Regions from separate parts of the Homo sapiens genome. Here region 1 is linked to region 2. The links come from fine-mapping of genetic effects on gene expression. A gene starts in region 2. The other region holds a variant in brackets. All regions are shown on one strand. Distances are between the middles of the regions.

What was found. PIP is the estimated chance that this variant, and not a neighbour inherited with it, causes the effect.
Region 1: its variant is fine-mapped to the expression of PROM1 in aorta (GTEx, PIP 0.94).

The regions. Positions count from the first base shown.
Region 1 is chr4:16,028,004-16,044,288 of GRCh38, forward strand. It overlaps PROM1 (prominin 1), which reads right to left. Exons shown (of 28, transcript NM_006017.3): 3 at 10,943-10,998; 4 at 7,732-7,758; 5 at 5,301-5,506. Among named protein-coding and RNA genes, the nearest start is that of PROM1, 48 kb to the right of the region's middle. RefSeq lists an enhancer at 14,990-15,631 and a silencer at 15,403-15,697. The variant C/G (reference allele first, on the strand shown) is at 7,458.
Region 2 is chr4:16,074,653-16,090,937 of GRCh38, forward strand. It overlaps PROM1 (prominin 1), which reads right to left and starts at 9,371. Exons shown (of 28, transcript NM_006017.3): 1 at 9,326-9,371; 2 at 1,035-1,466. The coding sequence starts at 1,254. RefSeq lists enhancers at 1,776-2,493, 2,494-3,211, 4,557-4,646.

The DNA.
Region 1 (16,285 bases), 47 kb before region 2:
CATTGATAATTTTTTAAAAAAACTGTACTAAGCTGGGTGTGGTGGCACACGCCTGTAATCCTAGCTACTTGGGACACCGACATGGGATAATCACTTGAGCCCAGGAGTTCCAAGTCCAGCATGGGCAATATAGCAAGACCCCATTATTAAAGAGAAAAAGAAAAAAAATCTCTACTAAGTATAATTATAGAGTAGAAGTTAGTGATTTTCAAAGCTGATTTTCAAACTAATGCACAAAGTAAATTTTGTATTTAAATTCTAATGCCTGTGTAAGCAGGCAGAAAGCATTAAAGAAAAATTGGGTAGCAGGGGGTCATGGGAGCTGGGAGATCAAAAATGGGCTGGAGGAGCAGCTAAATCTGCAGGTCTCAAAAGCACCACCATGATGGCAGATAAATATTACCGTATCTTCCCATTATCCACAAAAATCTGGGAATCTGGATTCTTATGTGAAATATCCCAATTTTTAAATATTAGCAACTAACAAAAAAAATTTAAATACTATGCAGACCAACTGATGGTCTCCATGTGCAATCTCAAATTTAAACCTTCTATTCAAACACAAATAAAGAACAAAGAAATTATGCTTTGAGGTATTGATTTAGACACTCCCTGTTGTTCAGTGTATTTTTTAGCAAAAAAAAGGTATGTGAATAAATATTTTTATTTGAACAACCTCCAGTCAATTATTAGAATACAATGATACCAAGAGACATTTACCTAACACAAAAAGGAAATCATATTTCAGTGAATATCAGTTCTCTGGCATTTGACATAAATGCCTTTAAACAATCTAAAACATATGCTTTTAAGCAGTACAACAAAATCTCTTAGAATTTTTAGCAGAAGATAGGAATTTTTATTTTTATGGCCTTACATCTTCCATATTTTATTATGGAAAAAACAATTTTCTCACATATACACTTACAAGCTTTTTACAGAGTAAGGCTAAACCTTACTTTTAAACCTTTACTTTAAAACTTGTAACTGTATTGCTCTTACCAATTTCTACTGATTTAATAAAATTAGCCAAAGAAAGCCAAACAAATGCTTTCAGTCTATAACAGCTCTCTTATTAAAAAACAGAAAAATTACATTTAAACTGTAAGTAACCAGACCTCATTCACATGAAGAAAGTTTCATGATTTTCAGGACTGCTACATCTAGCTCAATCTTTTTTCCACAACCTTGTAGCCTCCCATTCAGGAATTGGCAATCACGTCCTAGTATAAAATGAACTTTGAAAATAGCCAGCTTCCTGAAAATGACTGGAATTCAATTCACCATGGGAATTATTAGCAAGACTGGCTTATCATACTCAGAAACTTAGAAACATACAAAGGAAGTCAAGTCATGGTTTTTTTTTTTCCTTCCATAACCTTTATGAGAAATGCAGCGGTGACAAGCAAAAAGAAAGAAAGGAGAAGAAAGTTGGCTTTTTCTGGAGTAAGACACATCTGCTTAACAGTCTACAGTGAGGGGTGGAAATTCGATCTTGTGCTGATGGTCAAACAGACTGCATAAACATATGTCAGTGTCTACGGAATTCTCACATTCCACAGCTGCCTCTGGGAACCCTCAGAGAAAGAACATGCCCACGTAGATTGCACATCTGCTAGGGCATCTTTCTCCTTAACACCTATGTCTTCCCTTCACCCCCTAAAGAAAAGATTTACATTTTTTAAAATAAAAAAGGATGCTCAAAACTAACTTGAAAACCAACTGCATTTAATTGTAATATTTTGAGCCACAAAATGAAATTGAGTCCAATAAAAGGCAGGTGGACTGCTCTGGGTTTCTGAAAGAATTTTTTAAAAATCACATGCAAAGATTATTTCTCAATAGTGTCCCATCTCCGCTGAAGTCAATGTCAGCTAGAGGCCCTGCATTAAACAAGAGAGAGTCCACTCTCCTATCTTTCCCTCCACTTCCTTTCTTTCCCTTTCTGCCTTCCAATTTTGTTGACATTCTTGTCCTTCTTATTTTTATCTAATCTTCTGATTTTGTTGACATTCTTTCTTCTCCTGTCTAACTACTCATAATAGAGAAATCTTAACTTTCCCCAGGTCTTTAATCCTCCTGCCTAGCTTGGATTACTTGCAAACAATATGTAGGTATTATGCAACTCATGATGTTTAAGGTATTTGCAAACCAGTGGGGGTTTCAAAAGGAAGCCATTAAAATAGCTACCGTAAATCAAAAAGTTCAAGGCAAAGAAGCTTAAATTCTCATCAGAATTTAAAGTGAGAAAAAAAAATTCACACACTACTCTTATTTAAGCCTATTTATAATTTATACATAAATTCAATGTGCTATATGAAATCAAATTAGTTTTAGTTTTGTCACAATCTCAGTTGATCAATTTTGGTTTAATTATATTGAAATCTAAAATTACAATTTTCACATTAATGTTTTACTTGGGTGGGGAAAAAAATTGTTTTAACTGAATGTGTAGGAGGGTATAGAATCACAGCATGCATTTTTAAAAAGAATTTTCTAAATTAAAATATACTTAGAAAAAACATATATTGATTTGATAGGTCTGAGTTCTCAAGAATTAACAAAACGGTAGCTTTCATTTTATATATAAATGGAAGCCAAGTTTATTTTTTACTTTGTAGCTTTATTGTTGATATATTTTGGCATTTTCAACATAATGTAAATAACTCAATCAGCTGAGAGTGAACTATAACATGCATAACACATAACTATATGTAATGCAAATAAAAGTTCAATTTTGAAAAAGAAACCCATTGTAGTGGCTAGGCACGGTGGCTCACACCTGTAATCCTAGCACTTTGGGAGGTCGAGGAGGGCAGATCATTTGAGGCCAGGAGTTTGAGACCAGCCTGGCCAACATGGTGAAACCCCGTCTCTACTAAAAATACAAAAATCTGCCGGGCCTGGTGGCGCATGCTTGTAATCCCAGCTACTAGGAAGGCTGAGGCACAAGAATGACTTGAACCCGGGAGGCGGAGGTTGGAGTGAGCTGTGATAGCGCCACTGCACTCCAACCTGGGTGACACAGCGAGATTCTGTCTCAAAAAAACAAAGAAACCCAATATATTGGAAACCGATTATTACACATGTAAACACTTATTCAGGTAAATAAATAACTACATTCAATAAAGAATTTTCCTGAAATTATACTATATGTATTGACATCAAGTGAAAATTATTAACTTGTTAAATAAGTAATCATTCTAACTAGAAGCCCTAAGGGCAATATTTTCAGATGATGCTTTCACATCCGAGTCTCATCTTTGAGGTCCAGGGTGTATGGAGCGGGTAAACATGGCTGTGCAAGTGTCTAGACAAATGTGGCGTGTAAGTTTCAGGCTTACAGGAAACACACCAGGGATCCCTGGTGGGTTTGACAGGTTTCAGGGCTGTAACCGAGATTCTTCTGGTAGCTGAAAAAGAGGTAACTACCCCTATAACTAGGAGTCTGTGCATTCCTTAGAGTATATCAAATACAAAGCAGAGAGAGACAGGGACATTTGGAATGACCACTACTGACCTGATCCCAAACTGCCTCTCAAAATCAAATGTGAAAAAAATAGCAAGGATCAAATGATTTTTGGAGACACAGAGAAAGAGACAGACAGTGACAGAAAAATACAGAGAGGCAAGGAGAGACAGAAAAGGGAAGAAAAGAGAGAGAGAGAGGGAGAGAGAGATTGACAGGCAGAGATGCCCACACCCCAATGTCATGGAGACAAAACAAGTAACTCTCAGGCTAACCAACAATGCATGAAGTCAGCTAACACATTCACTTGGATCTTGTTTACACACATATATAGTTAAGGTCGATTATTCCACTATTATGAGCAAAAGTATGTCTTTGCTTAAATAGTCACTGCCCTGGAGTAAGTGGTAATGCATTGGCCTTTGTCTGTTGTGAAGATTTTTTTTGTCACTGTTCAAGTTTCAGTTAAGTTAATTCAATAGGTAATACCCGAGCCTGGTACATAATCAAAAGAGACAAAAAGCCCAGCTACAGCAAGAAATGAGTTTCCTTCCTTCCCCTCCACAACCCTCAATTTCCTTTCCAGAGGCAACCACTGTTGCCAGTTTCTTGTCAACCCTTTCACATCCCATCTGCTCTATAAAAATATGACCCAGTGCTTGTGTCTCCTTCCTGATCTTTTTTTTTTTTAACATAGTTACCATGTTCTACACATGGTCTGCAACCTGCTTTTTCACTTCATCTGTCATGGTGACTGGTATCAACAAATCCAGAGCTGCCCAGTCCTCTTCAATGGGTACACTGCATTCCAATGAGTGGTCACCCTAAGCCATACACATCTTATCAGACCCCTGCTGGTGGCCACACTTAAAGGCTTTCCTTCTTGGGTTTGCAGCTAGAACTCCAACTCACAGGACTTACTGTTTTCTGTTAAAATTCCTGAATATCACTTCCTTAGTAAAACTTGAAAAAAATCTTACGGCTACTGAGCACGTGTGGTGTTTGGAGAAACAACAAAGAGAATGCTGTTGGCCAACCCTTGCTGTGCCTTCATGTCATAGGCACATTGATTTCTGCTGCTGCATGAAACAGTGGCGGAATGAATGAGGAAATGTGGAACAATAACCAAGCAACATAACAAGGGAACACTGCTGTGGCGCACTCATCTTCAGATGAGCAATCTAATTTGGACTCGAAAAAACGTCATCTTAAAAGCAATGTATTTCTGATCTGCCAGTCAACTGGAAAACTTTTGAAAGCAGCAGACACTGCAGCAGAAATACCCTAAATCGTGAAGTGTGTTCCAGACTTAAGGGAGGGTAGCGGATTAACAGCACATAAAAGAAAAATGAGTTTATTATTAGAAAGTCAATTGCATTCTACAATATTTTCAAATTTCCAAATTCAGGGACTGCATCAGTCCATCAAGATTCCTTTGGACTCAACTAGCAAATCAACTTGCAGATCCATCTCTCTTTTCTGCATGCTGCCTGCCTGCAAATAGCTAATTAAGAGGAGTCTGCTGTGCTGGGAGGTAAGTCCTTTCTGCAGTCCAAGATTTCTCAGGATACCTTCAAGAGGAAAAAAATACCAAAGGGCTGGCTCATCAGCTCAGCTGGGGCAGCTTCATTACAACGCTAATGTCTGATGATAATGAGATCCTTTCGAATCACTCTAGACAAGCGCTTGTGCTCTCTCTTTTCTGTTTGGTGGGTTTTTTTTTCATTGTTGCTATTTTGTTTAGTTTTAAACTCATGGTTTAACCATAAAAATGTGAGACACTCTTCATCAGCCTAAAACACAATCAGTTGTTGTCCAATATTGTACTTGCCTTATTATTATACAAATCACCAACAGGGAGATTGCAAAGCATTTCCTCAGGAAGGGCCCATTTTCCTTCTGTCGCTGGTGCATTTCTCCACCACATTTGTTACAGCAACGACACATACAAAAGAAATACCCCACCAGAGGCATCAGAATAATAAACAGCAGCCCCAGGACACAGCATAGAATAATCCCTGCTTCATAGTAGACAATCTGCAATTCAAACAAAAGAAACAGCACATATTGTAGCACAAAATAATAAGTAGAACATTCCATGGTGTACAAAGTTCTTTTTTTTTTTTTTTTTTTTTGAGACAGGGTCTCGCTCTGTTGCCCAGGCTGGAGCGCAGTGGCGCGATTTCGGCTCACTGCAACCTCTGCCTCCTGGGTTCAAGCGATTCTTGGGCCTCAGCCTCCCGAGTACTGTATTTTTAGTAGAGACAGGGTTTCACCATGTTGTCCAGGCTGGTCTTGAACTCCTGGCCTCAAGCAATCTACCTGCCTCAGCCTCCCAAAGTGCTGGGATTACAGGTGTAAGCCACCGCACCTGGCCATGTTTCATTTTTTTAACCTATCTGCCATCATTAGTTGAATCTGAATGTGTACATATATATATATATATATGTATGTATTTTTTTCCATTTTGAAACTCCTTTTTGAAACAGAGGAAGCAGAGAATTGAGTAATTAAATACATGGCCAAGTGGTTACTGGAAGATGTCTTTCAACCCCTAGGAAGATGTCTAAATGCTAGTTTGAGCTGCAAATGGTTTAATTTTAACCCCAAAGGTATTTTGTTTGTTTTTAAATGGATCAATAAATCTTGGCAGGAGTACTTGCATAACAATCTACATATAAGGCGCTTTGCACACTGCAAAAATAGAAGTTAAAGATTCAAAGCACTTTGGATTGGCTGGCAAACAATTACTCAAGAATCTGGAATGTATCTTAATTTAGAAAAAAGGCTCAGACTCTAAGTCAGGCACGTTAAACACAGGCCAGTCACAAGGTTCCTCCTCTGATACACTGGAAATAATAATACGTACCTTGTCAAGTCATTGTGAAAATTAGAGATAACGCATGATTAGAAATAATGTGACAAAGGACCAAGCACTGAGTAGACACTTACTAAAGGTGCCTCTCATGCCATGCCCAGGAGCCAGATCCACAGTGAAGGACCGACCTTGGCAGTCCGTGTCTCAGACGGTTCCTGAGTTCCTAGGAACAGCACAATTTCTAGATACAATCATGTGACCTAAACATATTTTCATAATCACTGCTGACTTTATTCCGGGATAAACGAAAATTAATGCAACTAGATGATGAAACTTGATGTCATTCCAATTCATGCATGTAGCTGCTTATATTTCTAAAGAATGGCAGAAAATTGCAAGTTGGCAGTTTGCAACTAAATGGACAATCTAGACAGCTGCGAATTCTGAAGCCAAGCTGAGCAAAGGAAAATAAAACACGAGTCTTGTTCCTGGGAGCAAATGTGATGTCTTGGAGGAGAGACCTGCTTTACATCCCAGCAGGGGGCTTCCAGGTCCCTAAAGTGGATGGTGTCACATTAGCATTAACTTCATAAACATATTGTGAGGGACAAATAACTAAATGACTGAATGTGAAAACAACTAGCCAAGTGCCCAGCACACAGTAGATATTCAATAAATGGTAGTTAACTCTATGAGCAAATGCTCAAGACTAGTAAATCTGGTGCATCTGGCACTTGAATATTATCTACTTCCATATTAAGATTAAATTGCTTAAAAAAAAGAGTGGCTGAATCTTGCTGGGTTCATCAAGTATGTGCTCACGCTTAAGCTAACCCCCATCCCATGTCCACGAAGAGGCATTATTAGGGGACTTAACCCTTCCTCGAGGACCAATACCACTTGTCAGTTAAGAAACCAGCCCAGACATTCCAAACTCTTACTTACGTATTTTTCCATCATTTCTCAGCAAATATTCTAAATTGTTTACTATTTTAAAGAAATGTAAATTCTATCTGAATTCCAGGAGACACTGAACCAAAACCCAGGAGAGAAGATATATTGAAATGTTTTAAATGCACTAATTTTAGCTTTAAATACAAATTGTACATTTGATAACACAGCCTTTCTAATGTTACTGACTAAATATCAGGCAGTATCAGGAACAAGATA[C/G]GGCATTTCAAGAGTTCACTTCTAGGCCGACTAGACGAAGGCCTGTCACTACTTAAACTGTTTTTTGATACACCAAGATCTTCCAGTGCTTTGTTGATTGTGTTGAAGATCAACATGTAAATATTACAGAGATATCTTTCTTCAAAGAGAAGGTTAAAAGTGATGGTAAAAACAGAAATGAAACGGATCATTTAAAAATCTTCACAGTGAGGATGACAGTGAAGAACAGAAAGGCTTTCCAAGAGCAACTTGAAATAGCAGACAAGGACTTTACCTTTAGACCTAAGATTACAGTTTCTGGCTGTAGAAGTCAACGCAGGTGAGGAATTTTGGCAGAGGCAGCATGCATCAAGAAAACAGACAGAAAAAGTTATGAGTGATCAACCATAACCAAGAACATTCATATCCCACAAGGAGGAAATTGGGTGATAGAAGGATAAACATGAGAAAGGAATATAAAACTTGAGTGTGAATTCAAGAAACAGTGTTTTAAGTTGCTCTGAGTTCTGAAATTTACATTTGCATTTACATTTGGATTTCCCAAAAGGTTCTTAATCCGTATGCTAATCGGTTACGCAAAGGAGAATTAGAGGGGAAGTTACAAATGCTTAACACACTAACCATGTGATCTTCATAAAATAGAGAATCAGATCTGAGAACTCCAGAACCAACGGCAGCATCTTCCCAAGTGCCCTTTTCTAAAATAAAAATCTGATGGTGTTATTCCCATGCTTAAAGCGATCAACGGATTCCCACCATTTTTATTCCAAACATCTCAATGTTTGATTTTAAATGTCCTTTCGTGGCAAAATAAAATTAGGTGGCTCTATGTCATTTTCTAGATCACTTTTTTGAAATATTCTGGTCCAGGAAATCTAAAAGTGTAGAAACTATTGCCTCAGCTGGCAGATCTTCACAGCTCTGAGGGAACACCATTTGTGATGGGAATCACTTTTAAATGAGGCATCCAAAATACTGGGACTGGGGGGCAGTTCAGATATACCTGCCTCTGGGGTCACACAGGGCATTTTAAATGATCCCGGTCTCCCTTTCTTGGGGAAGGGGCACGCAGGCTTGTTACCAACCAGGGCACAAGCTCCCAAGCTCACCAGACACAAAGAAGCACCTCACAGTGTGTGTTAAAGAAAAACATTGACTCCTGGGCTCCTCTGCTACAGCACATGAGTCAGAAGATATGGGTAAGACCAGGAATCTGTGTTCCCTGAGCCTCCCAAATAAACGACTTGCCCTGGAGTCATTGGTGTAGGGTCTGCTTCAGGGGGAACCAACCCAACACACTCAGCCTTTATCAGACTAAATCTAGTCAGAAAGCCCTCCTCTAGATGTGGCCTGGATCCTTTGGTGCCTTTGTTTAATTAACCTCTTTCTTTGGATAATGGTAGAAAGCATGGTCCAGTTCCACATCTAGAGTAGGAATCAGCTCATTCATGTGGGCTCAGTTCTGCATCTTCTCTCCACTGCACCCCCACCCAGAGTTTTTATTCATTTGCAAAGGCAAGGAAAGAGAGCAGGAGCCAGGGGTATAAACCAAGGTTATGGGAGTGCCAAATCTAATACCAAGTCAAGCACAAAGACCCTGCCAGGGACGGTGGCAGCCCAGCTCCAGCTCAGACTCACAGGTTCCTCAAGGCCACCTAAGGGTCTCAGGACCTCGTTCTCCAAGTCCCGGATCCCACTGAAGCACTGCCCCTACTCTCATTCCTTGGTTGGCATTCGGGCTGGCTAAGCATGTTATGCTAATTTTGAATATAAATATAAAAGCAACTGTCATTTTCTTCCCCCCAGAGATACAGGCCGACGTGACAATCACATTGGGAGATATAAATGAAGCCTGTGGCACTGAGGAATGAAAATGCTTTCCACGGTGCTGGGGAAGGCTGTGAGCCCTGGGAACAGCTCAGTTCATCTTCCACACAGTCTTCCCTTGCTGAATGTAAACAGCCTCTAGATAAGGCTTTCCTCTTCTGCATTTACTTTTCTCTTGAGTATAATTTTCTTGCAAGTTAAGAATATGATGAGGCCATTTGTAACTACCGTATCTGAGGTAACGATTCACTGGGCAAAAGGGAACTGCCTTCTCCCATGCCGGAAACACTAGCATTCAGATTTGTTGTGCAGGCCAGTAAAAAACGTCCACCTATACATCTGCTTACTGGTAGCCCGATAACCGCCTTCAAACCAGGAAAGGAAGGAACAAAGTGCTTTACTTACCGAGAAGGACTGAGAACCTGGCCAACACATTTAACTAATTTTTATTACCTTACATTCAGTGCTACACACTTTTGTCTGTTTGCTTCATGGGCAACCTACAGTCATAACACACCAAAATCGAAAGACCATTCTCCTGTTTAGGTAGGCAGTCGCAGAGGAGTGCATTGGCAGCAACTTGGGTAATAAGCAGAAAAATGCAAGGAGCCTTGATACTTTCTGAAAATACTATGGATTCACTCAAGAGAGGCGTTCAAGGCCCTCCCAGGATCAGGCCCCAACTTACCTTTTTTTCTCTCCCTCTGGCCAGGGGCCTGCTTCTTTCATACCTTGACCTCTTTGCTCACATGTTCTGAAGCCTGGAATGTGAGAAGAGCGCCCACCCATCCCACCGGCTCTGCCCTTGTATGATCCTTGTTACATTAACTAGATAAGGTCCCTGCTATCTGTCTTCTAGCCTCTTGAGACCAAAGGCTATCATCCTTATCTCCACCTTCCTTCATTTCTAGCCATGTCCTCACACAGCAGGAGCTTCATAAACCTTATACAAATGCAAAGCTACTTTTTAACAAACGATGTTTTATAACAGAGTACACAGTCACCATCTCTAGGAATTTTCAAACAATTCTACTTAATGAGGGAGTTCTCATCCCTCAGCTAAAAGAAAAGTAGCGTAATATTTCTTTTTGAAGAAATTTTAGTTTTTATTTATTTATTTGTTTATTTATTTTGAGATGGAGTCTCACTCTGTCACCCAGGCTGGAGTACAATGGCACCATCTCGGCTCACTGCAACCTCTGCCTCCTGGGTTCAAGCGATTCTCCTGCCTCAGCCTCCCGAATACTTGGGACTACAGGCGAGTGCCACCACGCCCGGCTAATTTTTGTATTTTTAGTAGGGATGGAGTTTCACCATATTGGCCAGGCTGGTCTCAGACTCCTGACCTGGTGATCTGCCCGCCTCAGCCTACCAAAGTGCTGGGATTACAGGCGTGAGCCACCACACCCGGCCTTAGTTTTTAATTTTTAAGTAACATACAACTTGAAAGGTTTTCTTCAAATGCCGCTTTTGAACTTTCTGCTATGGTTCAAATGGGATTTGTAAGGTGGTTCAATATTCCATGAAAGTTCTTAGTCAAAAAAGATTACTAAAATTGCAGATTGAATAACTGGTTATTTAAAGATTTACTTTCAAGTCAGCCAAAATTTTTCTCATACTTCGTATTTTTAATAATAAATACACCAATGAAAAATTACCTTGTCATAATCAATTTTGGATTCATATGCCTTCTGTAAGAATTTTCTCAAAGTATCTGGAAAAAAAGCCACAAAATAGCAATATTATTTTTTCAGTAAAATTATAAAATGCATATTTAGAAAAAGATCTTTATATGCTTAAAAATTATTATACCTATATTTCTATTATTCTTATAATTTTATTCTTATTTCTTAATGTAGGTAAATAATTAATGACCTCTAGCCAGAAGCCAAGAATAGAAGACAAATACTTCTGATTTACTATTTTGTCAGTGACAGAATTAGAGAGTTGTCATTTTTAAGTTAGTAATTTATCATAATACACCTTAATATTTACCAGCAAACCGCATACAGCTTATTAATAATCATTTATAAAAATTTTGCTGAAATTGCTAATTCTTAATTGTCTGGAAACACAAATGAAATTTATTGTTCAATAATTCCACATTTGCCTGATATTAATATTTTACAAAGGAATGGATGAAAGGAATCTTAAAATTAACTCAACCCGGCAGGATGCCGTGGCTCACACCCGTAATCCCAGCACTTTGGGACACAGAGGCAGGTGGATCACCCGAGGCCAGGAGTTCAAGACCAGCCTGCTCAACATGGTGAAACTCCGTCTCTACTAAAAATACAAAAATTAGCCAGGCGTGGTGGCGCATGCCTGTAATCCCAGCTACTTGGGAGGCTGAGATGGGAGGATCACTTGAACCCGGGAGGTGGAGGTTGCAGTGAGCCGAAATCGCGCCACTGCACTCCAGACTGTCAAAAAAAAAAAAAAAATTAACCCAACTCGAGTTCTTAACATGGGAAATCCTTCTCTTCCTGTCTCCAAGCAGTGCATAAAAACCTATGCAATGCAAACTGGAACTTTTCCATAAATACTCATTTAGAGTATTTGCAAATTCTCACATAGGCCTGGGACCAAAAAAGACTAAGAGCCACCTCTTAACCCTGAGCAGCCATCTAAGAATGATATGAGACAACTGAGACATGGACAGAGAGGGTGACATAGTGATTCGTGAGGAGGCCAGACCAAGGCTCAGGACTTCCTTCTCCTGTGCGGGTGCCTTCCCGCCACCTGTACACTCTCTCTCACCCCAGGAAGGAGCTTCTGCAGTGCTATCACTATATCCATCACGCCTGAAATGTACTAATGGGGGGGCAAACGAAACACTACATCAACTCCTTTTTTGATGCAAAAAAGTTCAGATTAACATATAGGAAAACAAAGCAAGCCACTTTCCCACAAGGCTTTCTGCAAAACAACTTTTCTCCTCTACAACTCAGAGATATGGGCTGATGTTTAAAGATTATGCTGCAGGAACAGAGATTTTCAAACTGATATGTACCCAGGGAACCCCAATAGTTTCTTCACAGTACCTCGGGGGCTGCCCAAGGACCAGAGGGACACTGAGGCTGTCTAATCCCCTTCCGACAACACAGGCTACTTCCCCCTTCAACCAGTCAGCATTACTTTGGTCTGTTTTACAGATCAGGCTTTAACATTTCATTGTTTAAAATTTCACTGAATGAAAGAGTCTACTGTTGATTTAAAAACTGAGAAATCATCTGTTTATTAAAATATACTTAGCTGCACAGCATAATATGTTGCAATTTGGGATCTTGATCTAGCAACGAGTTAGAAGGGAATCCAAGCTCCGCCACTTAACTGTGTGTCTAATCTTAGGTGAATAACTGCTACGAACATGCTCATGTGCAAAATAAGACGTCCCTACTCTCAAAGGACCACTTAGGGTGAAGTGAGAAAACATTTATAAATAAAACAGCACCGGGCCTGGCACACAGTGGGCACATGGTATATACCTGCTATCATTATATGAAGGAATTTAGAGCATGCAGATCACAGAACAGTATCCATGGTAAGTGCAGTGTGGAAGACTGTTATTTTGGCCATTCAATATCCATTCACTTTTTTTTTTCCCTTACAAAACAAAAGCAAACAAACAAAAACAAAATGAAAAACTTTGGATTTCTTCTGGGGAACTGCTTCTTCCATCCTCTCAGGCCACGTGGACTGGGGAAGCCGTGAGCCCAGCACCTCAAAGGTAGATCCTCACGGGTCTGAACCAGCGGGTCTCCAAGCATGGGCTGTGGGAATCCCCAAGACATGTTCAGGGTGTCCATGAGGTCAAAACACAAGATGTTAATTGCTTTTTTTGTTGTGTTGACATTTGCACTAGGGTGCAAAGGCGGTGGTAGATAAGAATGCAAGTGATTTGGCACAAATCAAGATGGCAGCTGATACTCATTATATTCTTTGCCATCAGGCACTCATGTTCAATAGTCAGTTACACTTAAGAAGGCTCTTGATAAAGCATTAAAAATTATTTTTATTAAATTTCAACCTATGAGTACAGCTCTTTTTATTATCCTGTGTAAAAAAAAATGGTAACTACACATAAAGCTCTTTCATATACATCAAAGTATAATGTGCAAAAAGCATTTGTGCAAGTGTTTTAAGTTGTGAGCTCAACTAGCCACAGTTTTCATGGAACACCATCTTTACTTGGAAGAAAAGTTGATGGCCAGGCACAGTGGCTCACACCTGTCATCCTAGCACTGTGGGAGGCCAAGGACAGAGGATTGCTGAGCCCAGGAGTTTGAGACCAGCCTGGGCAACTGGGTAACATAGTGAGACCCCACATTAGTCAAGTGTGGGGGCATGCACCTGTAGTGGGAGGCTGAAGTAGGAGGATCATTTGAGCCCAGGAGTTCAACTAAGCCACAGTTATGCCACTGCACTCCAGCTCGGGTGACAGATCGAGACCCTGCCTCAAATAAATAAATAAATAAATAAATAAATAAATAAATAAATATATATATATATATATATATGAAAGGCTGAGAGACAAATTGTGACTATTCAGACTTAGATATACCCAATCTCAGCCCTTAATCGTGGTTCACTGAAGGCTCAAATTCCTGGACTCAAGTTATCCTCCCCTCTCCCCTCAGCCTCCTGCATAGCTAGGACTACAAGTGCACGCCACCATGCACAGATAACTTTTTAATTTGCTTTTTTGTAGAGATGGTGTCTCACAATGTTGCCCAGGCTAGTCTTAAACCCCCGGCTTCAAACGATCCTCTCACCTTGGCCTCCCAAAGCACTGGGGTTACAGGCGTGAGCCACCGTGCCTGGCCAGCATTTTCTCTGAAATGAAAGAAGTGGAGCTTGCAAGTTTAAGAAGCCACTGACAGGATTTGTTGCCAATGATAAAACTAGAGCTTTCAAGCAAAAATCAGAATTTTGCAAAGTGCGTATCCACCACCATGAGCTTGACAGCATTCCAGTACTTATGCCTTTCTAACGTGATCAGTAAGGATATTAAAGAATTTTTGATACTATAAAATGAAATATGTCCACATTTGGGAGATGTGCAAAACTCAGTGAACGAATATTTTCCAAAAGATTCATGCATCATGTCACAAAAGCCTGCGTGGAAAAAGATCCATTCAAAGTGGAAGACAAGGAGGTGGGAGGAGGGTAAATGATTAAAAATTACTTAATGGGTACGGTGTACATTATTCAGGTGATGGATACTCTAGAAGCCCTGACTTCACGACTATGTGCTGTATCCACATCACAAAATTACACTTGTACCCCATAAATTTATACAAATTTAAATTTTTTTAATAAATAAATACAGTGGAAGACAGACCAGTGGCTGTTAATAGATCAAACTATAAAAAATTAATTCACATGGTTCCAGATTCCACATTGCAAATAACCTTTAAAAACTAGCACTTGCACAGTTTTAGTGTGGTATTAAAGAAAAATATCCACAATTATCTGAAAAGACTACTAAAGTACTGCTCTCTTTTACAACTACCTATCTCAGTGAGAGCAGACGTTCACCCTATACATCAACGGAGCTAACACCCAGTACCTCAACGGGAGCAACCCAGATACAGATATGAAAATCCAGCTGACTTGCACTAAGCCAGATGTTCAAGAGATTTGCAAAAATGCAAAAACCAATGCCACTCTTCTCATGATTTTTGCTTTTGGAAACTATAGTTATTTTTAACAAAATTAAGTTATTTATGGAAAGGGTTTATTATCGTTCTTTTTAAATGAATTGACAAATATATGTTAAGGTGTTCTCCATTTTATCTTCAAATATGATAAATATTGATAAACAAAATCTCTCTGGGGCCCTGAATAATTTTTAAGAGTTAAAGCGGATCTGAGACCCACAGTGTGTGAGTGAGACCTTCTGGTCTGAGCCAAGTAACATATCCACCCAACCCCTATAACTTGGTTTAGGAGTCAACAGATAATCCAGCTTCAGCCAGTGAGAGACAGACTCAACAGACTCAAGTCTTGGCTTTTCCTGCTTTTTGTTTGTTTTGTTTGTTTCATAGAGATGGGATCTCATTCTGTCACCCAGGCTGGAGTGCAGTGGTGCCATCATAGCTCACTGCAGCCTCAAACTCCTGGCCTCAGCCTCCAGAGTAGCTGGGACCACAGGCATGCACATCACACCCAGCTAAGCCTTGGCTTTTTCCGGGGAGAAATGCTCACTAACACCACCCTTCACCAGGCCCCTGCTGGAAAGGACGTTGGTCTGGAGTCACTGCCACAGTCCTCCAAGCGCAAGGCAAGAGACTGAGAATTGAAGCCCCACATGAGAACCAGCCCTGGCAGCATCACGGGAGCCCCACTTTGAATGGATATTTTTCTGGACTGCACATGCTGAGAAGGTGGCAGGGATGTGTACTGTAGCCCGAAATACAGAAAACAAGGGGAGCCTGCTCTTGAGAGCACACAGGTTGCCCCATGACGCTGTCTGGGATGTGGTTCTGCGCCTCTCCATCCATTGCTCTGTCCATAGCTCTGACTGCCAGCCTCTCCAGGGTGTGTGGCCTGGGAGTGAGCAGCCCTGTGAACTTCAGTATGGACCTTCTGTGGCCAGCAGCCAAGTCTGCAGAAATGAGTTCTGGAACTCAGGGCCTCTCTGTCTGTCTCCCTCTCACACACCCCCCAGGTCAGGGGACAGCGCTGGCAGGATGTCTTAGCTTCGTGGGATTCTCTTGCAGTTTCTCACTACACTTCAACAGGACATGCAGCAGGAGCTTCTCCAACAGGCTGCGTGCGTATGTGTGCGATTTATGAGTTTTGTGATGTCTGAGCCACGGAAGTAAGCTAAAATAAGAAATGTGCCTTGTGCAGGACCCATATATTATAACAGATCCGTCTTCTTTATGTGAGTCAAAACTCATCTTTGACTAAGATATTTCTGTTCCCAAACTGGCTTCTCTGAATACATATGTAGATTCTGGCCTAAGCTGGGCCTAGTGAAATTCTATCCCTAT
Region 2 (16,285 bases):
CTTCAAGCTGTTTTAATTGCCCTAAGACAAATAAGTGTTAAAAAACCAATACAAATGTATTTTAATGAAAATATATAAACTCCCCATAATATAAACATGTGATGATATTCACTAAATACATCCTGTCTCTCTTCCTCCCTCTCTCTCACACACAGGCATGTACACACACCAGTAGGACTCTTACAAACAGTAGCTGAACAGCTAAGGAAAATGATAAGAAAGATTACAGCGAATTCTATAATCAATGATTGTAATCAAATCTTTGTAACTAAAAGAACAGGCTTAGGATGGACTTACTGTTAAGCCAATCAAAAATTTAGGTGCCAAACCCTAGTAGCAGATATTTCCCACAGGCTATTTTTACTTTCATAATCCCTTTTCTATGAACACATACCCTGAATTCAGAAGAGTATGGAAAACAACAAACATTAAGAAGGCGAAAATGACAAACAGCACTGTGTGTGATGAATAACAGCACTATGGCATGACAGTTCTGGAAAGTGCCAATCCTCTTCCTCACACCCAAGCTCTTAGAAATGAAGAAAACAGCTGATCAAGTAAACATGTTTGTCCTTACCCTAAGCAATGTCAAAATTTGCATATTGTGGTGGGCAGAAGAGAGTTAAATTTTTAAGCGATGAGGTGGCCATCAGTTGCTAGTTATTCGTTTCTCCTTTGATGACACACAATTTGCATTTTTACCCTAACTTTACTCTAACTTTTACCTTTGGTAAGTGCCTTAGAATAATTCATTGCTCTAACCCAAACAAAGCAAAACCAAGCAAAACAAAAGGTAAAGAAGTGGAAAACCAACATAGCAACATCGTTTGCTTCCATTTCTTATAATAACATTCCTCGCAACCTATGTAACCTGGTACAAGTCTTCTTAACTTCTGTCTAAATGCTTTCTGCTTCTGTGCAAAGCAATCGCTAAAATACTGAATATATTATATATTGATTGCATTGACATTAAAAAACAATATTGTGGGTGCGTTTGGAGATAAATCCTATCTTTCCCTGCCATCAGCACTTACCTTCTGGGAAATCACGCGGCTGTACCACATAGAGAAAGATATGCACTAGTTCAAAGAGAATGCCAATGGGTCCAGCTTTATGGGAGTCTTGGGTCTCATAATTTGTTGCAGGCAATTCATAATTCCAAGCCTTAGGAGCATCTGTGGATGAAGGCTGCCCTCCTGAAAAGGAGTTCCCGCACAGCCCCAGCAGCAACAGGGAGCCGAGTACGAGGGCCATAGCTAGCAAGATCCTCCAAACATGAGGTAGAACTTGGTGCCTCCTGCCTCAGAGCTTCTGGAAGCCTTGGGGAAGGCAAGCGTGTTCCTGGGCAGAAGAGGAGCAGGAAGCACTGGATCTGCTGAATCTTCAGTTTTCTGTCTGAGGCTGGCTTGAGGCGAGGGATGCGGAAGAATGTTCTCCAAGGGGGTCATTCACTCAAGGCACCATCCCTGGCAGGGAGAGAAACAGCAGCAGAGTCATCAATGCGTGTAAACTGCCTGCACCTGGAGCTGCCCGGAGAGGACGCTGCAAAGCTTTAGAGCAAGGCCTCCAGCCTAATCCGGATGGGTGGGTGGAAACCAAGCACACAACCTGCTCCAGAGCCACAGGGCAGGTGCTGGCATCAAAGCCATGACTCACAGAAGGTCCCTTCTCAGGAGGGCCAGACTCAGAACACAGACCCTTTATGGGTTCGGGAAATACTAAATATTGTAGAGAAAGCTTGAGATCTTGGAAACTAACATTTATTGAGCACTTACTATCTTCCAGGCACTGTTCTCCATGCTTCATAGATAGAAACAAGGTCCTCCTTGTTTAAGGCATTATTCCATTTTGCAGATGAGGAAACTGACACAGAGAGGATTCTGGTGACTTGCCCAAGGTCACAGGTGATTAACCATGTGGCCAAGAGTCAAACCCACTAGTTTGCCTTCAAAGTCCAAGATCTAACTATGACATCAAGACACTGTCCCTTCAGTGCCCTCCCTAATGTGGGGAAAAGAAAGAGAGATCAGATTGTTACTGTGTCTGTGTAGAAAGAAGTAGACATAGGAGACTCCATTTTGTTCTGTACTAAGAGAAATTCTTCAGCTTGAGATGCTGTTAATCTATAACCTTACCCCCAACCCCGTGCTCTCTGAAACATGTGCTGTGTCCACTCACGGTTAAATGGATTAAGGGCTGTGCAAGATGTGCTTTGTTAAACAGATGCTTGAAGGCAGCATGCTCGTTAAGAGTCATCACCACTCCCTAATCTCAACTACCCAGGGACACAAACATTGCGGAAGGCCGGAAGACCGCAGGGACCTCTGCCTAGGAAAGCCAGGTATTGTCCAAGGTTTCTCCCCATGTGATAGTCTGAAATATGGCCTCGTGGGAAGGGAAAGACCTGACTGTCCCCCAGCCCGACACCCGTAAAGGGTCTGTGCTGAGGAGCATTAGTATAAGAGGAAGGCATGCCTCTTGCAGTTGAGACAAGAGGAAGGCATCTGTCTCCTGCCCGTCCCTGGGCAATGGAATGTCTCGGTATAAAACCCGATTGTATGTTCCATCTACTGAGATAGGGGAAAACCGCCTTAGGGCTGGAGGTGGGACATGCGGGCAACAATGCTGCTCTGTAAGGCATTGAGATGTTTATGGGTATGCATATCTAAAGCACAGCACTTAATTCTTTACCTTGTCTATGATGCAGAAACCTTTGTTCACGTGTTTATCTGCTGACCTTCTCTCCACTATTATCCTGTGACCCTGCCACATCCCCCTCTCTGAGAAACACCCAAGAATGATCAATAAATACTAAGGGAACTCAGAGGCCAGGATGGATCCTCCGTACGCTGAACGCTGGTCCCCTGGGCCCCCTTATTTCTTTCTCTATACTTTGTCTCTGTGTCTTTTTCTTTTCCAAGTCTCTCGTTCCACCTAACGAGAAACACCCACAGGTGTGGAGGGGCAACCCACCCCTTCAATTAACCATGCGGCCAAGAGTCAAACCCACTAGTTTGCCTTCAAAGTCCAAGATCTAACTATGACATCAAGACACTGTCCCTTCAGTGCCCTCCCTCTCAGGCTCTAGTACGAGCCACTGGGGCCCCAGCAATCCAGTACATGCTTATATGCTTATTTCTTCTCCAAGTGTGTGTTGTTCTCTTTGCCGCTGGAGATATATCTTACTCTGCCTTATATTCTACTTATTTACTCACTAATCTCATTTCAAACATCCCCCTCTCCACCTCACCCCGAATCCAAAGTAGAAGGGCATGGCCTCAAGTCTAGGGACCACACCGTTTGAGGCTGGACACATGTGCAACACTGGAACCTGTCTTTCTAATAAGCTTACCAAGTAATCCTGATGGAAATCTTCACCCTAAGTCACCACCTCTACAACTAGGGGTCTCAGAGATGAAAGCCAGGGCAGAGGGAGACTCTTACCTACCCCTTGGGAGACGGAGAAAGACACAAGAATCCTAAAAGCAGCTGTGGCTCCAGCATCTGGGAAGGGAATGGGACAGAAAGTGCCTCCAAGATGGACTCTGTCCTACTCTTCTTTCAATCCCCAGACCTTAACACTGGGCATGGCACGTAGTCGGTGTTTAGTAAGTGCCTGCTGAGCAGCTTGTTTCACTCATGGCACCATCCCTGGCAGGGAAAGAAATAGCAGCAGAGTCACCAATGCATGTAACCTGCCTGCAGCAAGAAGTGCCCCAGACAGGAGGCTGCAAAGCTTTAGAGCAGGGCCTTCAGCCTAATCCAGGTAGGTGGGTGGAAACCAAACACAGCCTGCTCCAGAGCTACAGGGCAAGTGCTGGCGTAGAAGCCAAAATATGTTATTTCCTTGTGCGGTTTCATGAGACTAGGCAAATCAGCACAGAACCTGGAAGGATCCCAAGTGTACCACTCTTCCTCTCTGTATTAAGTGTCCTGGAGCAAGAGCAAGCTGCTGTCACTTTGTGAGCTAGATACATACTTACTAACTTTCAAGATAAGTACAGGGTGCTCCTGAAACACATACTGTAAGAAAGGGAAGGGGGATGATGAAGAAGGTGACATACTTTGCAAGAAGCCAGAGGACCCACTACCAATATTCCAAGTCAAAGAAAGCTTTGGACAACAGATGGGATTTCTTGAGCTATTTGAACAAAGATGTTAATTCATATCTAATCCCTCCATTGCCTCATCTTCTAAGTCCTGTCCCACTCCAATTACTCCTGCACAAAGCTACCAATACAAGGGCCCCAAATTCTTCCTTTGTCAAATCATGGGCTGCTCAGATCCCAAGTGGCTGCCAGTACTAACCTCAGGCCCACGCTTCAGGTTACGCCCACCGTCACATCCACAATAGACACCTTGACCCTGGTGTTTCCAAAGGGCTCCCTTCAAACATCTACTGCAAGCACAACACACCACATGTACACTTTATCTTGGTTTTTTTTTTTGCTAAAGGACAGGCAGAGAGCTAAGCCTCCAGCACAGCAGCTGGAAGGATTAAAGGCTCAGATGCTGAGAAGGCCCACTTTCTGGTAATTCCACCAAACCTCAGCCCAGGACAGAGAGAAACTGCCAAGGGAAGAACTATGAACAAACAGGCTCTCCAACTCCCTCAGTGACAAAGCAGGGGAAGGGAAATTCCCAGTGAAGTGAAACATAACTGCTCACCGCAGCAAAGATGGGAGACAATGACTTGAGATAGACAGCAACTGCAGTTGCACTTCCAGATTTCTTTACATCTTGCTCCAAAATGTAGGTCCCTCTGAAGTTTTAAAGTACATTTTAAGAAAGTATTAATATCTCACTAACTATGAAATACTAGAAACTGATTAAAGTCAAGTCAAAGAGGAAGAGTTTTTTATCTCGGGTTTAATAGGTTGTGCCAAAAACAGAAGCTCTGAGTATTTACCAGCTAAACCCCACTAGGTCCGAGAGCCACTGAGAGTAGCATCTGTCTCGGGATAAAATGGGGTGTTTAGTTGAAATGCAGACTATTAATGGACCTAATTTCTGGGATGAAACCCATTAATCTGCATTTTTAACAAGCTTTCCTGGGGACTGATCCTTCAAACAAAGTTTGAGAACAGTTCTGTTCCTGGAGTACTCTGATCCTGGAGTACCCGCCTAGTCAATTCATGTCACTTTCCAAGGACACTTCAGGCTTCCCAAACACATTGGAAAATAACACATGTAAGGTGAAAGCTCCCCAAATGCCCTTTTCATATTGCTTTGAATTGATCTACCCCAGCTGCTGTGCAGGTCCCTGGCTTATTTCTGTATCCCCAGAGCCTGGAACACAGTTGGTACTCAATGAAGAATTGCTACCAGCCTGGGCAACATAGAGAGGCCCTGTCTCTACAAAAAAAAAAAAAAAAAAAAAAAAAATTTAAATTAGCAAACGTAGTGGTGCACAACTGTAGTCCCAGCTACTCGGAAGTCTGAAGCAGGAGGATTACTTGAGTCCAGGAAGCTGAGCCTGTAGTGAGCCATAATCATACCACTGCACTCCAGCCTGGGCGACCTTACATGATTTTGAGCCTGGAGTCCAGAGAACTGCATTTCAATACTGGTTTAAAAGCAAATATGGCCCGGGCGTGGTGGCTCAAGCCTGTAATCCCAGCATTTTGGGAGGCCGAGGCGGGCGGATCACGAGGTCAGGAGATCGAGACCATCCTGGCTAACATGGTGAAACCCTGTCTCTACTAAAAATACAAAAAAAATTAGCCAGGTGTGGTGGTGCACACCTGTAGTCCCAGCTACTCGGGAGGCTGAGGCAGGAGAATCACTTGAACCCGGGAGGCGGAGGTTGCAGTGACCTGAGATCATGCCACTGCACTCCAGCCTGGGTGACAGAGACTCCATCTCAAAAAAAAAAATTAAAAATGAAAAAGCAAATATGGTGATCAATCACCTTCATTTCTTCTTTTCTTCTTTTGATGGAACTTCTCAGAATCTTTCTTTTTAAAGAAGAGCTTTGTAGTGGATTTTTGTCATCTGGAGTGCTTTTGGCGGGGGCATGGGGGATACCCAACATCTGAGACCACGTTTGTGAGCTGGGTGGGAGGCAGCCCTGCCTTGCATTGTGAGGTCAGCTGAGGCGCCCAAACTGTGTCCTGGTGGAGCTGAGCCATGCTGGGCCAATCAGAAGCTTTCTTCTGGGCCTGGGCCTGCGCACTCTGAAGCAGGACAGTATCTAATTCATTCCAGCAATGATGGCAGCAATGCCAGTAGCCACATCCAGGGTCCTGTTCTGGCAGCCGCAGCCACCCACCCATCAGGGGTCCTGTGGCATGTCCTAGATTCCTAAGCCTGGCTAGCCAGCCTTGCTGCCACTTACCTAAGCCACCCAGGGACCATCCTTTCAAGAAGTCCTTTTATATATATACATATACATATATATATGTATATGTATATATATTTTTTTATTATACTTTAAGTTCTAGGGTACATGTGCACAATGTGCATGTTTGTTACATGTGTATACATGTGCCATGTCGGTGTGCTGCACCTATTAACTCGTCATTTACATTAGGTATATGTCCTAATGCTATCCCTCCCCACTCCCGCCACCTGACAACAGGCCCCGGTGTGTGATGTTCCCCTTCCTGTGTCCAAGTGTTTTCATTGTTCAATTCCCAACAAACGGTGCTGGGAAACCTGGCTAGCCATATGTAGAAAGCTGAAACTGGATCCCTTCCTTACACCTTATACAAAAATTAATTCAAGATGGATTAAAAACTTAAATGTTAGACCTAAAACCATAAAAACCCTAGAAGAAAACCTAGGCAATACCATTCAGGACATAGGCATGGGCAAGGACTTCATGTCTAAAACACCAAAAGCAATGGCAACAAAAGCCAAAATTGACAAATGGGATCTAATTAAACTAAAGAGCTTCTGCAGAGCAAAAGAAACTACCATCAGAGTGAACAGGCAACTTACAGAATCCAAGAAGTCCTTTATCTGATAAAAATTACCCCCGACTCAGCTTCCACTGTTTTAACAAAGTATCTTGACCCTTAACAAATCTCAGAAATAGCTCTTTGCTCCCTGAAAAACCTATTTCCTTTATATTTTAAACAGTACCAACTTGGTTTAAAGTTTTCAGCTTGTCCTCTGATGCATTTGTTCACCTCATTGTACTAAAACACAAAGAAACTGTCTCGTATAAAAATCAGAAGGAAGTTTAGAAATCAGAAAGAAGTTTAGAAAAGTTTAGAAATCAGAAGGAAGTTTAGAAAAAAATTATGGAACACATGAAAAAAAAAACAAGAATAAACTAAAGGGCACTGCTGAATAGACAGACAACAGCAACAGTAAGGGGGCTCTGGTCCCCCTTACTAACTCTGCCAAGATGACAGTTGTTTGAATTCTCCAACCCTTCTTCTGCTCCTCTGTCAAAGGAGGATTTCGCATAGGGTTCGCAGGCTAGCGATCTAATAGGTAAAGCACCTGGCACGCAGCTGGAAGGCTATCTGGGGTCTGTCTGCTTCTGCTAGCATCAATACTCTGAGCTCAACTCCACCGGGGCTCCTAGGATAACCGGGACAGAAAGGACGGTGAGAAAAGAAAAATGAGTAACATCACACAAGTTGAATCATATGAGGTTGACGATATTCACATCTTCCATCCAAAAAACCGACAATTTCTTATGATTCAACCCAACATATCGCAGCGGTTGTTCGTGTCGCATGAGTCTCGGGGGGCACTCAAGAACTACGATCGTGCACTTGCTTTCTTAACAAAGAACAGCTGCCGCCCTCAGGAACTCCAGCAAACCTTTCTCCAGAAAGGTCAGTCGCCTTAGCGGGCTCCAGGAGCAACCTGTTGCAGAATGAAGCCTGGGGCGCCGGCTTCCCCGCCCTTTACCTCCAAACCACCTCCAGGCCAAGCCCCCTCCAGGCCTAGCTCCCTTCTGGGCGGAAGCCTCTCGCGAGCTGCGGGACACAAAAGAATGAGCGGCGGGGCGGGCGCGGGAAGCCAAGAGACTCCAGGAATTCGCAGCCGCGCAGGGGAGGGGGTTGCCGGAGTAACTTGGCTGCTCTGAGCGCGTCGGCGCCAGTTCCCCGCCGCGGCCCCTGTTGGGCACCGATCGGGGGCGATCTTGCCAGAGAGAAGGGGTTCTGGAGCTAGTTCCTCCCTCCGATCCGACTCCCTGCCCCTCCAGACACGGGCTTTCGGGGAAACTGATCCCGAGCCTCTGACTTTCTACAGCCGTGAAGCTCCTGGTCTGTCCACGCTCCTCTTTGTTGTCCGGTCGGCGTGTTCTGGCAGGGTGCGCCTTGAGCACCCCAGTTCTCCATCTAGCGATAGCCGCGGGTCCCCGCGCATGCAAGCAGAAGGGCCGTGGAGCGAGAGGCTGGGAAGGTGCTTCAAGCCAGGGGTGCATGCTTTCTCCCACGGACGCGGGGAGATGGCCTCGCTTTGTACCCCCATATCCCTACTCCCGCTGTGGTCGGCTGCACAGTGTTGGCCCATTTCCGCACTCAGCCAGGGAAGCTCAGCGCCTCACGTCCCCGGGGCCATCCCTAGAGTTTCCTTTACCGCAGACTCGTTCCCAAGACCCTGGCGAGTCTCACCTCGGTCACCGTTCTCCCCGAGAGCGAGTCCGAAGTCTCTGGGGCCCCGGTCCAGTTCGCACACTCACCTCCGACTCCCGCTCCGGAACCACGGCCGCCGGCTACCCCCACCCCCGCCCCCATCCCCAGTGGATGGAAAGAAGACCCAAGCGGGGCGTCGCGGGCCACCACTCAGACTAAAAAGTTTGGGTTGGACGGGCACCGGCACCACCACGCTCTCCCCGCAGTTCCTCTGGCCCCCAGCCGCTGTCCGGGCCCGCACCACCTGCTGAGGGGCCAGGGAGGCGGCGCAGATGGCTAGGGTAAGGGGGGCGCAGAGCGAACCCGTCCACTCCTCACTGTACACCCCCAGTACAGTGGAAGGAGTGCGCTCAGCCCCGCGCCTGGTCAGCAGATGCCTCTCTCGCTCCGGGATGAGGACCCAGCTACTCACCGTGCACCCGGCTCCCGCTCCTGCTCCCGCCCTAGTCACCGCTGCCGCCGCCCTTCCCTTAGCTCGCCAGACCCTGGCTCGTGAATTATTTATGACCCGGCTTCTGGGACCACCGCGACGGCTTTCGGAGAGCCCGCCTCCCACTGCCGGCCGCGGAGGGGCTCAGGCGGCGCTGCGGCCGGACCCTCGGACGTGGCGGGAGGCAGGAGAAAGGCCCGGGTGCCCGGGGGGACCCGTTGCGGCTTCCTCTGTCCCGGACGGGGACCTAGGTATGGGGCCGCCGTAATGGAAAGGATTCCTTAAACATACTCACCGCGGCGGGAGAGCTGAGAGCATGGCCAGGTGCCGCGTGGGGATCTGCCTCAGTCACTTAAAGATCGCGAAACCCGAGCCCTGGACGCACTCTGATTGGACCGGCTGAGCTGCTTCGCCACGTAGCCCTGGGGCGCCCACCAGCACCTGGACAGCATCCATTTCCTGTAGAGGTGCCTGCTCAACCCCCTGCACTCCCTTCTTGCAACGCTTGCGCCTCTTTTCCCCCCGCAGAGTCCCTTACTTAGAATGCAGCTACCCTCCTAAAAACTCTCCTGTCTCATCCCGGCCGCATTAGACCCTTCTGTTGCCTAATCCCAATGCAATTTAAAACAAAACAAAACAAAACAAAACAAAACAAAAAACAAAAAAACAATCATTTGGATCCTTAGTGTGCAGCAGTACCAATGCTAGTGGCTGAAGCGGTTGAAAAACAGCATAAAGCCATATTCGCTCCCATGTGTACACACAGGCATCTGCTATAACGTGAAGCCACTGCAACTTCTTTTCTCACTGCCTATTGGTCTTCCCGCTCTGTGAGTTACAACTCAACCTCGGAGTCTTCACCTTGCTACTTAGCTGAGTGGTGGAAACCTGTCAGAAGTAATCACTCGGTGTCTAAGTGTCCTCACCAATTTGCACTTCACTCTTATTCACCACTTCTTATCTTGAATTGAGAATACTGTACTCTCCGGCAGGCAAAAAAAAGACTTAGGGAAGAAATGCACCTTCAGGATGGTGTCTAGCATACAGCAGGTGTTTAATACATGTTTGTGATATGGATAGACAGATGAAAGGATGGATGCACAAGCTACAAATGAATGATAGACAGGAACATTAAGTCAGTACCTTTTTCTTTTTACCCCAGAATCTAACATAAAACAGGTACTGGAAAATAAGCATTTTTTGTTTTTAATAGTTAGATTGATCTTGAGTGTGTATATTTCTAGACAAGAAATGTTAGTTCAGAAAACTTCCAAAAAGTACAGTAGGACATGGCAAGGTTAGATGGTTTGGCTCTGTGTCCCCATCCAAATCTCATATTGAATTATAATTCACTGGGAGAGGGACCTAGTGGGAGGTGATTGGATTATGAGGGCGGATTTCTCCCTTGCTGTTCTCATGATAGTGAGTGAGTTCTCAGGATATCTGATGATTTAAAAGTGTGTGGCACTTCCCCTTTGCTCGCTCTGTCTCTCCTTCTGCCATGTGAAGATGTGCTTGCTTTCCCTTCTTCCACCATAATTGTAAGTTTCCTGAAGCCTCTCTGGCCATGCCTACGGTACAGCCTCTGAAACCCAGTCTCAGGTAGTTCTTTATAGCAATGTGAGATCAAACTAATATGGGTGGAAAACAAATCTCTTCTAATCAGGGCAGATTTCCCCTCTGCAGCCCCTGCAGGTCAGAAGTTTCTGGTTGAACATCTGCTGGGGTCCCATAAACCTTCTCCTAGATAGCACTTTTAGGCTGGAGCTAGCAAAAGAGGTGATTTCTCAAAGGAGTGGGTCCTGATCTCCGTCAAAGTTTGGTCCCGCCTCTTTTAATCGCTGTGACTTTGGCTGCTTAATATTTCTCTGAGCCTCAGTTTCCTGGTCTGCAAAATGAAGACAATTATAACTCACAGGGCTCATTTTCATTCCTAATAATATCAACAACAATAGTATCAGTAGAAAGGGGTGAAGCAAGATGGTCAAATAGAAGGTTTGACCACCCACCCCCCACCCCGGCTAGGAACACAATTTAACTGCTATCTACACACACAAAAAGCACCTTTATAAGAACCAAAAATCAGGTGAGTAACCACAATACCTGGTTTTAATTTCATATTACTGAAAGAGGCACTGAAGAAGCCAGGAAAGACAGTTTTGATTTGCCAATGCCGCCAGTCCTCCATCCCCCAGCAGCAGCAGCCTTGTGGCTTGGGAAAGGGAGAGTGCAGTGATTGGGAGACTTTGAATTGAACTCAGTACTGCTCTGTCATAGCAGAAAGCAAAACTAGGCTGAACTCAGCCAATTTCCCTCAGAGGAAATAGCCCATACCAGTGGTGAAAACTTGAGTTTCAGTAAAGTGCTCTGGGGCCCCAAATAACCTTAAAGGCAGCCTAGGCCACAAGGACAGCAACTCCTAAGCAAGCCCAAATGCTGAGCTCAGAGCCAGTAGACTTGGAGGGCATGCGACTTACTGAGACACCAGACAGGGGAGCTAAGGGAGTGCTTGTGACACCCCTACCCCAACCCCAGGTAGTGCTGTTAGTGGCTCTTCATCACTGCATGCCCTTTTCTAGCACTCATGCCTCTTTTACCCCAGCAGAGCTCTCTACTTGGAATGCAGCTACCCTCCTAAAAATGCTCCTCTCTCAAAAACTCTCAGCCACATTAGACCCTTCTGTTGCCTAATCCCAATGCAGTTAAAAAAACAAAACAAAAATAATCATTTGGATCCTTAGTGTCTGCATCAGTCCCAATGCTAGTGGCTGGAGTGATTAAAAACAGCACGAAGAGACCCATTCCTTCTGCTTGAAGAGAAGAGGGGGAAGAGTAAAGAGGACTTTGTTATCTTGAATATCAGTTTAGCCACAGTAGGACAGGGCATCAGTCTGAGTCATCAGACCCCCATCCCAGGTCCTAACTTGTGGATAACATTTCTAGACACATCCTGGGCCAGAAGGGAAACTGCTGCCTTGAAGGGAAAGAAACAGTCTGGGCAGGACCCATCACCTGTTGGCTAAAGAGCCCTTGGGTTCTCAATAGCCAGAAGCAATACTCAGGTAGTACACTGTGGTTCTTGGGTGTGACTCTGAGATCTGCTGGTTTCAGGTGAGACCCAGTATATTCCCAACTGTGGTGGCTAATGTGAGAGACTCCTTCTGCTTGACAAAAGCAGAAGGAAAAGTAAAGAGGATGTTTTCCTTCCCCTTAGGTACCAGCTCAGCCACAGGGAGGTAGAGTACTAAGCAGGCTCTTGGGGTGGTCTTCAATGCCCAGACACCAATGAATATCCAAAAGCTTCCAGACCACCCAGGAAAACATGACCTCACCAAACAAACTAAATAAGTCCCCAGGGAACAACCCTGGAGAAATAGAGATATGTGATGTTTCAGACAGAGAATTCAAAATCAATATCTTGAAGAAACTCAGAGAAAATTAAGATAACACAGAAAAAGAATTCAGAATTCTATCAGATAAATTTAATAGAGATATTGAAATAATTTTAAAGAATCAAGCAGAAATTCTCAAGTTTAAAAATGCAACTGACATACTGAAGAATGCATCAGAGTCTTTCAATAGCAGAATTGATTAAGGAGAAGAAATAGTGCACTTTTAAAGACAGGCTATTAGAAAATACAGTCAGAGAAGACAAAGAAAAAAGAATAAAAAATAATGAAGCATGCCTACAAGATCTAGAAAATTACCTAAAAAAGCAAATCTAAGAGTTACTGGCCTTAAAGACAAGGTCGAGAAAGAGATGGGGTAGAAAGATTATTCAAAGGGATAATATCAGAGAACCACTCAAACCTATAGAAAAGTATCAATATCCAAATACAAGAATTGTATAGAACACCTAGCAGATAAACCCAAAGATGACTACTCCAAGGCATGCAATAATCAAATTCCCAGAGGTCTAGGATAAAGGATCCTAAAAGCAGCAAAAGAAAAGAAAGAATTAACAAACAATGGAGCTGCAATACATCTGGCAGCAGACTATTCAGTGGAAACCTGACAGCCCAGGAGAGAGTGGCGTGACATACTTAAGCTGCTGGAGGGAAAAAACTTTTACCCTAGAATAATATATACAGCAAAAATATTCTTCAAACATGAAGGAGAAATAAAGACTTTCTCAGACAAACAAAAGCAGAGGGATTTCATCAACACCAGACCTGTCCTACAAGAAATGCTACAAGGAGTTATTCAATCTGAAAGAAAAGGATGTTAACAAGCAATAAGAAATCATCTGAAGATATAAAACTCCCTGGTAATCGTAAGTACACAGAAAAACACCGAATGTTATAACACTGTAACTGTGGTGTGTAAACTACTCTTATCTTAAGTAGAAAGACTAAATGATGAACCAATCAAAAATAATAACTACGACAACTTGTCAAGACATAGACAGCACAATAAAATATAAGGAGAAACAACAAAGAGTTTAGAAGCAAGGGGAGGAAGTTAAGGTGTAGAGCTCTTATTAGTTTTCTTTGTTTATGTAATCAGTGTTAAGTAATTACTAACATAAAATAGTGGGTTATAAGAAGATAGTATTTGCAAGGCTCACGAGAACTTCAAGTCAAAGAAACACAATGAATACACAAAAATAAAAAGCAAGCTATTAAATCATACCACCAGAGAAAATTACCTTTGCTAAAAGGCAGACAGGGAGAAATGAAAGAAGGAAGAGAAGACCCCAAAACAACCAAAAAGCAAATAAAGAGCAGGAGTAAGTCCTTACTTATCAATAATAATATTGAATTAAATGGACTAAACTCTGCAATCAAAAGACATAGAGTGGGCGAATGGATTAAAAAATAAGACCCATTGGTCTATTGCCTACAATAAACATATGTGACCTATAATGACACAAATAGACTGAAAATAAGGAACATAAAAAGATATTCCAAGCCAATGGAAACCAAAAAAAGAGCCGGAGTAGCTATATTTATATCAGACAAAACAGACTTCAAAACAAAAACTATCAGAAGAGACAAAGGTCATCATATAATGAGAAAAGGCTCAATTCAGTAAGAGGATCTAACAATTGTAAATGTATATGCACCAAACCCTTGAGCATCTAGACATATAAGGCAAATATTATTAGAGCTAAAGAGACTGCTAGACCTCAATACAATAACAGCTGGAGACTTCAACATCCCACTTTCAGCTTTGGACAGATATTCTAGACAGAAAATCAACAAAGAAACATCAGACTTAATCTGCACTGTAGAATGAGCCTCATAGATATTTACAGAACATTTCATCCGATGCCTGCAGAATAGACATTCTTTTCTGCAACACATGGATCATTCTCAAGGATAAACCATATGTTAGGTCAAATCAAGTCTTAAGACATTTTTTAAAAACCTGAAATAGCATCAAGCATCTTCCCTGACTACAGTGGAATAAAACTAGAAATCAATAACAAGAATGATTTTGGGGACAGATACCCCATTTACCCTTATGCCTTATTACACATTGCATGCCTGTACCAAAATATCTCACATAACCCATAAATATATGCACCTACTCTGTATTCACAAAAATTTTAAATTAAAAAAAAAACAGAAGTAGTGAGAGTAACACCCACACTTAACGAGCATTTACTATGAATGAGGCGCTGGGCCCAGTGCTTTAAATGAATTATTTTATGTAACCTTAGCAACAACAGCAGTTTGAGATCATATTATCTCTATCATAAAGATAAGGCTAAAATAGGTTCAGTAACCTGAGGTCACCAAGGTAGTAAGTCAAGCACTAAATTTGAACTCAGATCTGGCCCATGATCACCAATGCACCAGAAGATAACATAAAACCTTTTCAGGCCACTGCCACATTGGATTGAAATGGGTGGCTATCTGCCTTACGGTAGGGCACCAAATGCTTCAACTGTTTTCACCCATTTCCATACCATATACCAACATCTCCACCTGGACCATTGTGGTTGTTCAATAAGTGAGTGAATTAATAATAAACATAGAACACAATATTATGACCTAGTCTGGGCAGCCTTTTGCAGGCAGTGACAAGACCTAAGGATTTGTTCCATTCAATTCCACTTGGAACTCTCATTCTACAATCCAGCAATTTAGCTCAACTGAATGCCTATGTCATTTGTTACATGCAAGGCTAGAGGGTGAGATGTTTATTCCGACACACACACTCAGAGTCATTAGATGCAAAAGCTTAGATGTCCCTTTCTGAAATTACTGCTCATTTTTCCTGCCCAGATGAAATCTAATCATGAAATAGCATGATGTTCTAGAAAGAGAACTGGACTGAGAGCCAGGAGATTCATTCAGGCTCCATCAGCTGCCAACATGGGCCCTGGTAAGTCAGCAACCTTCCTGAGCCTTACACTCCTCATCAGCACAATAGCTGTGCTCAGTGACCACATGGGCTAGCGGCTGAGGAAAGGTTTTAGTTATTTTTCTCTGAGTCACTAAGACTAAAACAAAATAGGTTTGTGCTCAAATTATTCCAATTAACCTAATAATTTCTACCATGAATAACCATGCTTTAAAAAAAAAATTATGTGTTTGTATAACCAACACACATGGCAGGATATGACCCTGAAAGAAAGAGAGCTGTGTCATCTCATCACATGCTGCTCTGTTCTCTTAAGACTGAAATTTGTGTACCAGATAGTCAAGGAGAGAGGGAGAAGAAAGGAGAAGAGGAAGGAGAAAGAGAGAGAGGGGGATTGAATAGCTTCATGCAAGCCACAGTTGTCCTGTAAATATTTAACTTCATGAGTTCCTGTTCCTCTGGTCTTTTTGGTTTTTTTTTTTCCTTCCTTGCTCTGCACTTGGATACCAAAATAGCATTGCTGGTGTTTAATAACCAAAAGCCAGGAAAACATTCTTCTTGTACTTCAAGCACCTTCAGGTATGATTCGTAACTTGTCATCAAACCCATTCCACACTAACTCAAAGGCAGAGGAAGAAAACTTCAATCCAGCTTGAACAAAGGGGAGGAAAGGGCAAGATGGAGCCTCAGAGCTTGGATTCGGAATGTGAAAGCTGGGGAGCAGTTGGAAAATTCAGTCACACGTTGATGGGGGCTGTGAAGAGTAGTTTTATCTTTCACGAGTCAAAATCTGGTTTTCAATGATCATTTCAAATAAAGTTCTCATCTCTAGAGCCAGCTTTCATCTGTGCGTTTCCCTCTGACATCATTTTTAATATGCGCCAACTCCAATGGGGCTTTGTAACTTACCTTTAGTAACCATGTGGAAAAAAGGAGAGCAGCA